Regions from separate parts of the Homo sapiens genome. Here regions 1 and 2 are each linked to region 3. Evidence: fine-mapped expression QTL. A gene starts in region 3. Each other region holds a variant in brackets. All regions are shown on one strand. Distances are from middle to middle. Region 1 overlaps ZC3H18 (zinc finger CCCH-type containing 18). Region 2 overlaps ZC3H18 (zinc finger CCCH-type containing 18). Region 3 holds the start of CYBA (cytochrome b-245 alpha chain).

Evidence for each region. PIP is the estimated chance that this variant, and not a neighbour inherited with it, causes the effect. A credible set is the group of variants that fine-mapping cannot tell apart.
Region 1: its variant is the best candidate, but not a certain one, in a credible set for the expression of CYBA in pancreas (GTEx, PIP 0.69).
Region 2: its variant is the best candidate, but not a certain one, in a credible set for the expression of CYBA in whole blood (INTERVAL, PIP 0.88).

What each region holds. Positions count from the first base shown.
Region 1 is chr16:88,614,625-88,617,419 of GRCh38, forward strand. The region is part of intron 8 of ZC3H18 (zinc finger CCCH-type containing 18); the gene reads left to right. Among named protein-coding and RNA genes, the nearest start is that of IL17C, 23 kb to the right of the region's middle. The variant C/T (reference allele first, on the strand shown) is at 1,558.
Region 2 is chr16:88,594,220-88,597,014 of GRCh38, forward strand. All of the region lies in intron 3 of ZC3H18 (zinc finger CCCH-type containing 18), which reads left to right. Among named protein-coding and RNA genes, the nearest start is that of ZC3H18, 25 kb to the left of the region's middle. The variant T/C (reference allele first, on the strand shown) is at 1,261.
Region 3 is chr16:88,649,663-88,652,323 of GRCh38, forward strand. CYBA (cytochrome b-245 alpha chain) reads right to left here and starts at 1,391. Exons shown (of 6, transcript NM_000101.4): 1 at 1,294-1,391. The coding sequence starts at 1,351. MVD (mevalonate diphosphate decarboxylase) reads right to left here. Exons shown (of 10, transcript NM_002461.3): 10 at 2,278-2,661. RefSeq lists enhancers at 1-624, 625-1,518, 1,519-2,413, 1,841-1,990 and silencers at 1,001-1,150, 1,301-1,580.

The DNA.
Region 1 (2,795 bases), 35 kb before region 3:
CATTCAGAATAAGTGACATATTTCAGATGTTTTTAATCCTTTTATGTTACAGTAATCTCTAAGTTATTTTGAAGTTTACATGGTCATCCAAACGGGGAAACCGTCATTGACCTTGACATTGTGCCGCCTTCTTCAGCCTTTCAAGCCCTTTTGGATAGAAGCCCTTCCCCTACAGCACACACAGTATTTTCAGTGTGCACTCAGCCTAAGGCTGCCTTCTCCCCTGAGACCCCACTGCAAAGGTGCAGCCCAGCACCCCGTGCACACACCCCCAGCCGCTCCCTCTGCCCAGATGGGCTGCCCCCATTTCCTCCATTCCGTCTGCCTGGACGGGCTGCCCCACCTCCTGTTCCCTCTGCCCAGATGGGCTGCCCCCACCTCCTCCATTCCCTCTGCGTTTGACAGGCTGCCCCCACCTGCTCCGTTCCCTCTGCCTGGACGGGCTGCCCCCACCTGCTCCGTTCCCTCTGCCTGGACGGGCTGCCCCCACCTGCTCCGTTCCCTCTGCCTGGACGGGCTGCCCCCACCTCCTCCATTCCCTCTGCCTTTGACAGGCTGCCCCCACCTCCTCCGTTCCCTCTGCCTTTGACAGGCTGCCCCCACCTCCTCCGTTCCCTCTGCCCGGACGGGCTGCCTCTACCTCCTCCAGGGTTTTGCTCAGATTCCTCTGCACAGGGAAGTCTCCCCATCCCCTCCTGCTTGCCAGCCTGCTTTCTTGTTCCTCATGGCCCTCAGTGCCCATCTGGAGCCCTTGCAGCAGATGGTCCTGGGGCACCACCGTCTGCCCTGCTCCCCGTTGCAGCCTCTGTGCCTGTCCCAGAGTCCCGCACAGGTTGGTGCTTACCCACATTTGGGGGTGCTGTCCGTGAGTTTTGGATTTGGTATCAGCCTGCATTTTTACCTGCATGTCATAATTGATTGTTACAGGGTTGCTAAAATTGCACATTGATTTCTACAAACAGAACCAGCTGAGTCTGCTTTCCAGATTCACAAAATAGGGGTTTTCACGCCACCCAGATCATTGGTTTTAGAAGCAGAGACATAGAAAGGCAGTGATATCCACGTGGAAGGTCACTGTGCTGTGTGGCTCTGGGTTTATGAGTCCGTCAGCATGTCCACTTTGGTGGCTTATGGGCACACGTGCCTGGCCACAGACCCCCTTCCCCAGCCCCTAGTCATGTATTCTGCCTGTTTCTAAGCAGCCGGGGGCTCTTCCCAGTCAGGAGTCTGTAATTCCAACTCAGGGATGTTTTCTGTGTACAAGAATGTACTTCTGGAGTACGCGTTAGAGGGCCGCCATGCCTAAGGTTGCTGTGTTCCTCTGCTGTGGCCCGCACTTTAGTGACCCGCGGAATGGGAGGGCAGATTCCCGACTGCTGTGCCCGTCTCCTGTGTGCTCAGCCTCCCCAGAGGAAAGCGGGTGACGGATCCCAGGAGGCTTGGAGAGGGTAACTCTGCCAGCATGGCCACCAGGCAGCAGGTTGCCATCGCCAGCCCCTGAGCCCTCAGCTTCACAGAGGAGTCTTACATTCAGGAAGGGACTGGGAGGTGCTCAGA[C/T]GTTGTCTGGCCTGATCTGGGCTCACAGCTAGGGTTCAGGAAACTCTGTACTAAATGAGTTTTTCTTAAAATCAAACACAGCTGCTCTCACCAAACTGGGCCGAGCCGCTCTTCCCACCTGTTTCTGACCTGGTTCATTTCCCTTCTGCGAGGCTCACGTCCCTTTCTTTCCTTCCTGAAGCACTTGCTTGTGCTCCTGGGGCTGCCCTCAGCCCCTTCTCGGAGCTGCCAGCAGCAGGGCTGACGTTCTCTGCGTCGCTTGCCTGGATTCATTCAGCCGGCTTCCGGGTGCTGGGGAGTCCCCGGTCTTGGCTTCACTCACCTTTGCGGGAGCCCTGCCAGGCCCGCTACCTGCCTGGAGGACAAGGGTTTCCCCAGCGCAGAATTTCCAGCCAGTGCTCCTGCTTCCTTCTCCCTTATCAGCCAGAACTGGCCTGGCTGCCTTTTCAGGAGCAGCTGAATTCCCTTTGCAGTAATACACGTATTGAATGGGTGGGTCTTTGGCAGGTTGGGAGTTTGTAATCATTAGGTGGATAGAAAGAACTTTTCTCACCTAAACTGGAAGAAAATGACACAGTTTTACCCAGGGAGATCCATTTGGGAAGATTCTGCCTTCAGCTACCAAGCAGAACACGAATGAGGGGCTCTGCAGTGTCCAGCACGGCTGCACCAGGGCTAGGCCTTGCATGGGGGCTACACCCTAGTGAAGCGCAGTCACTTTTGTTTGGTCTGAAGCGCGGCCCAGGCTCGTTATAGCAGGCACTTCACCACCCCAAGCTTCACGAGAGGGGGCACAGTCGTGCAGCGGGAGGAGCGAGAGTCGGCCACTGTTTGGGTGCCATGGGTGTCCTGGGTAGAGTTGAGGGCCTCCCCCGGGAAGGATAATGCTGAGCCCCAATAGGAAACACTGCCCTGAGCTATCTGATGGCCAGCCCTCTGTCCATGGGGGAGCCATTTCTTTTCCTTATCTCTAAGCTAATACCCCTCTTTCCTGAGGTTCTCTCTTACTGCCTAAGCTGTTTGGCTCTGGGAGTTACTGGCTAGCTTGTCCCCGTCGGGATCTCATCCCCATCGGTATCTCTGGCAGGGCTTCTTGACCAGCTCCCCCCTGGACCTGCGGCTGGAGACGGAGTTGTGCCGCTCTCTCCGTCCTAGTTTGCCTTTTGAGGCTTACCCACTCCTCCACCTGGGCTGTTTTAAAATGATTAGAGCAGAACCTTTCAATCAATTCTATCAAA
Region 2 (2,795 bases), 55 kb before region 3:
ATTCCTCTCACCAAATATTTTAAAAACAGTTTCATAAATATTTGTTACTATATATTGGATATCTTGTTATTGTTAAATAATGAGATATCTTTAAGTGTCTCTTAATTTCTAATATCGTACGTATCAATAGAAATGACACATATAAACCAAGTAAACACAGGGAATTGATATTTACTGTATTCAAAATCAGAAGAGACATTTAAAGATACTTCATGTGTGGGCTGTGCTGGAGCATGAGCTGAGCCTCAGTTCCTGCCACCTCTGTGTTTAGTTTCCGGATTTTCCATGTTTCCTATCTGTTTCCTGTCTGTTTCCCTGATCCAGTTTGGGTTGGTTGCTACTGAGCATGCAGGTTCCCTTTCTGTAGTTACATTGTTTAGTGAAAAAAAGCAAGGTTCAGCACAGAGCATAATATATATGCTCAGGTAAAAGGGGGCAATGATTGATGGATGGAGCCCCAGTATATTGATAACTGCCTCTGGGAATGGCCCTGGAGGCATGGGATAGGTGGTCAACTTCACAGTGTACCTTTTAGAGTGGGTGGGTATTTTTTATTTACAAGTATTTCATTTGATTATGAAATATTTCATATATATAAAATAATACAGTGTTTACACAAGCGTAAAGATTAATAAGAGAATAAAACAGTTGGCTGGGCGTGGTGGTTCATGCCTGTAATCCCAGCACTTTGGGAGGCCGAGGCGGGCGGATCACCTGAGGTCGCAAGCTCAAGACTAGCCTGACCAACATGGAGAAACCTCGTTTCTACTAAAAATACAAAATTAGCCAGGCGTGGTGGTGCATGCCTGTAATTCCAGCTACTCGGGAGGCTGAGGCAGGAGAATCACTTGAACCTGGGAGGCGGAGGTTGCAGTGAGCTGAGATTGTGCCATTGCACTCCAGCCTGGGCAACAAGAACAAAACTCCATCTCAAAAAAACAAAAACAAAACAAAAGAAAAACCAGTTGCTGCTGTGCCGACATTCCAGTTAAGAAAAAGACCATCATCCTGTCTTGAAGCCAGAAATAGTACTTAGACATTTCAGCAGTGGAGGGGCCGCCTCCGCCCCGCTCCAGCGGCCTCTGTCCCTCCTTGTCCTCTTCTGGCCTGAGGCCATGTCTGTGTACACAGTATCCGCAGAACTATCTTTATACTGTTAGAATCACAATCCACATAAATTTTGGGTTTGAAGTCCCATTTGTAAACCAGAAGATCTTTATTGTTGCTTCTATTTTCTGGATAATTTCTTTCTTTCTTTTT[T/C]TTTTTTTTTTTTTTAACAAATTGCTTTTTAAATTATGAAAGTAAGGCTGGGGACGGTAGCTGACACCTGTAATCCCAGCTCTTTGGGAGGCCGAGGTGGGCGGATCACCTGACTTCAGGAGTTTGAGACCAGCCTGGCTAACATGGCGAAACCCTGTCACTACTAAAAATACAAAAATTAGCCGGGCTTGGTGGTGCACACCTGTAATCCCAGCTACTCGGGAGGCTGAGGCAGGAGAGTTGCTTGAACTGTGAGGCAGAGGTTGCAATGAGCCTAGGTCGCTCCACTGCACTCCAGCCTGGGCAACAGAGCGAGACTCCATCTCAAAAAAAAAAAAATTAAAAAAAGGAAAGAAAGTAATATGGGCTGGCAGAAGGCAAGAAAATAAAATCTAAAGCCCCTTCCCACATTCCCGACAGTTGGGTGTGTTCCTACACAGATAAAAGTTCACATTTTAAAAAGATAGATGGGACAATGGTGTTCTTTCTGCCTGACGTCTGCTGGAAGTGTGTCCCAGCTAGACGTGCAGACCAACTGTGCTGCTTTCCAGAGCCATCTTCCCCTTTACTCTGGCCAGGGGCAGGACAGCGCTCAGCACCCCCGGGCAGGTGGCTCCCGAGAGCTGAACACTGTCACCCACTAGTGTCTGGTCTCTAGTGGCAGCCCCACGCTCGCCTTCTCAGCTTGCTCTTTGGCGCTCACTGGTTTGTTCTCTTCTGCCTTGTTCCTCTTTTCTCCCCATGCCAATATCAGTGAGAAAGGATCTTTTTTGATAGTAGGTTCGTAGGTGATGTCCTAAAAATTTTCATAAATACAGAAAAGAACGATAACATTTAGCCACCACCCAGATACATATTTTAGATGAAAAAGAAGTACAGAGGCCGAGTGTGGTGGTTCACGCCTGTAATCCCAGCACTTTGGGAGGCCGAGGCTGGCAGATCACAAGGTCAGGAGTTCGAGACCAGCCTGACCAAGTTGGTGAAGTCCCGTCTCTACTAAAAATACAAAAATTAGCCTGGCATGGTGGTACCCGCCTGTAATCCCAGCTACTCAGGAGGCTGAGGCAGGAGAATCACTGACACCCAGGAGGTGGAGGTTGCAGTGAGCCGAGATTGCATCATTGCACTCCAGCCTGGGACTGTCTCACTCAGTCAGAGTGAGACTCCATCTGAAAAAAAAAGGAAAAGGAGTACAGAAAAGCTGTGGTTTCTATTGTCAGCACTTTTCTGTACTTGGACATTTTTTACAATGAGCTTTTGTTACTTGTTTAGTTACACACGTGATTTTGAATACTGCATGAGTATTTTCAGAGGCAAACCATGAAGAGCTCTGTAGTGTGTTGAGTCTCAGATGGATGACTGCATAGTCAGTTTTTCTTTAAATCTCTCTGAGGCTCTGGATTTTTGAACCCCCTATAGAATAACATTTCCCAACCTCTTTTGTTTTTTGTTGTTGTTTTTGAGAGAGACTCGCTCTGTTGCCCAGGCTGGAGTGCAGTGGCACGATCTCGGCTCACTGCAAGCTCCACCTCCTG
Region 3 (2,661 bases):
TGCCGAGGCCCTGGGGCACGCTCAGGAGATCTAGGAACAGAAAGGAAGCACGGCAGCTGGAGGAGGGGGCCGGAGAGCCGGGAGGCCAGGGCGGGCAGTGCAGGGCGTCCAGTCTGGCTCTAACTCTTCGGGCCAGGAGCCCCTGGAGGGTTTCAGCAGGAGGCCAGACTAGAGCCCAGGTCTCCTGGCTCCCAGCTGGGTGCCCTCAGTCCGTCTACTTCCTGTAGGGAGTGCGGGGCAGGCAGGGTGAGTCTCACGGGGCAGCTCTGGGGAGAGCTGTCTGAACTGACCCACCGACTTCTTGGCCGCTGACTCGAAGCAGGCGGTCACTTTCCTGGGCACAGGACAGGCTGCAGGGCCCCGTCCTCCAGCCCTCCCACCCTGAGGTCTCTGCTCCCACTCCAGCTGCCACGCACCCTCCAGACAACAGGGAGGGCGCTCAGAGCCCCAGGGGAGTGGTGGCAGCGGGCCCCTCCTCCTCACCCTCAGCCCCCAGGCCCTTCCCAGGCACTCCTCCCCCGGTGCAGGTCCTTCCTGGAGCTGCTGCAGTGGTGCCTCTGCCCTCAGACCTCGCCTGAGCCCAGCCTCACCCGTGCTGGGCCAGACACTCCCTGGCCCTGGTCCCGAGAGGGTCCATTTCCAAATGGAGTCCGCTGCCCTCACCAGAACCTCTGAGCAAATGCACAGGAGGGTGACTGGGGGCTGTGCCATCCCACCCCAAGAGCAAAGTGCCTGTGCAGCTGGGCTGGGCAGGGCCGTCACTGGGTGGTTTCGGCGCCTTGTGAAATCTCAGACCGCCTCCAGCGCAGACTCCAGATGAGAAGGGCTGAGCCCCAGGGCATGAGCCCATTCCCCACCCCAAGCCCAGGGAGAGCGACCTCCAGGCCAGCTGGCTACCGAGGGGCAGGGGAGCTTCTCCCGATGCCCAGGCCGGAGCCCCCACTCGGGGGCTTCGGGGCGGTGACCCCGGAAACCACCGGGGCTGAACCGCCTCTTCCCCTGCGCTGCAACTTCCTCCTTCGCGGAGTCGGGGGACCGAGAGAAGGGAATGGGGGAGGGGCGCCGCGCTCCGCAGGGTCTGCAAGGGAATTACTGGGGGTCTCAGAACTCCTCCTTCCAGCCCGCGGCCTGAGGGTCCCGCCCCCGTTCCCCGCACCCTCCTGGCCTGACCCCGGCCCGGCCTGGCCCGCCTGGCGCCCCACTTCCCCACCCTGTAAGTAGCCCGAGGTCCCGGCTGGGGTCTTGGGACACCCCTCCAGGCTGCAGCCTCCACCGTCCCTGACGTGCACTCACTCAGGCCGGACGCCAGCGCCTGTTCGTTGGCCCACATGGCCCACTCGATCTGCCCCATGGCGACACGAACCCGGCTGGGACACTGCTAGGCGCGCACTGCCGCCCCTGCGCTCCCGGCCGAACCCCGCCCCGCCCAGGCCCCGCCCCCAGCCCCCCAGGTGACCGCGGCTGGGCGGAGACCCGCATCTGTAGGGTGCAGGGCTGTCCCGGAGCCTTCTGCCCCCGCCCTCTCTAGCCACGCCGAGGCATAGGAGGGGCCCTGCCCGGCAGCCCCAGCCCAGGCGGGGAGTTCCTGCGCTTCCCCAGGGCTTCCCAAACTTCAGCTCTCAAACACTGACAAGTGCCCCTGCCCAATGCTCCGGACCCAACCGAGGGTCCCGTGTCAACCAGGCGTCTATTAATAGCAGGACAAGGTGTGAAGGTCGGCTTCCTGAGCAAATCGGCCTCTCCAGAGCCTTGGGGGGTGGGGGAGTCACCCCTACAGCCCGGGAACACCTCTGCACCCTGATGCTACCAAGGACAAGGGTGGCCTCCCCATGGGGACCAGAGGCCCAGCCCCCATTTCCTCCCCCTGGCTCTGGGCTGGCACAGGCGTGGCCTGGGTCAGACACTGCAGGGGGCCTCCCGTCACCAGGTCACTGAACTGTGACTGAGACTCGAGGGAGGGGACAGGATGTGTACAACTGGGAAAGCACAGAATGCAGGGACGGCCCCGTCACGTCCGGCCTGGGTACGGGAGGCAGGGGCTGGCGTGGGGGTGGTGAGCCCAGCGCCCATGGGAAGACTTTAGACCTGGGGTTGCTCCTGAGGGTCCCACCTGAGCCAATGTGGGGTTTGAGGGGAGCCCCTCTGTGGCTCTGCCCAGCCTGCCCCTCCCCCAGGCCCTCATGGGGCACACCTGGACTCCCTGACAGGTGCCAGGGTCACTCAGAGCAGGAACCCCGGGATGCTGGTTTACGAAACAGAAAAACGGCGGAGGCCGGAGGCAGCAATGCTGGTTTATTCCCCATGGCCACCGGGGCCGCACTGGTGCCCACTCCTGCCACCATTCCAGCCACACCCAGGCCGTGGGCAGCCACCCTCCGAGACACCTGGGCCGGGGGCAGGGTCTCAGCAGAAGCGCCGTGGGCAGCCACCATCCGAGGCACTTGGTGGTTTCCTGAGGCCCAAGGAGGCTGCTCCCAGCACGGTGACCCCTTCCCTGGTCCGCTGGAGGGACCACCTCCCCACTGAGCTCCTTTCTCAGAGAACTGGGCATAGCCAGAGCTGGGGTGAGAAAGCCCTTCAGCCCTGCTGCACCGAGGCTCTGCCAGTTCTCATACCCCCTCCCCATCCCATCTTGGCAAAGCGCTGGTGCAGCTTAGGGCA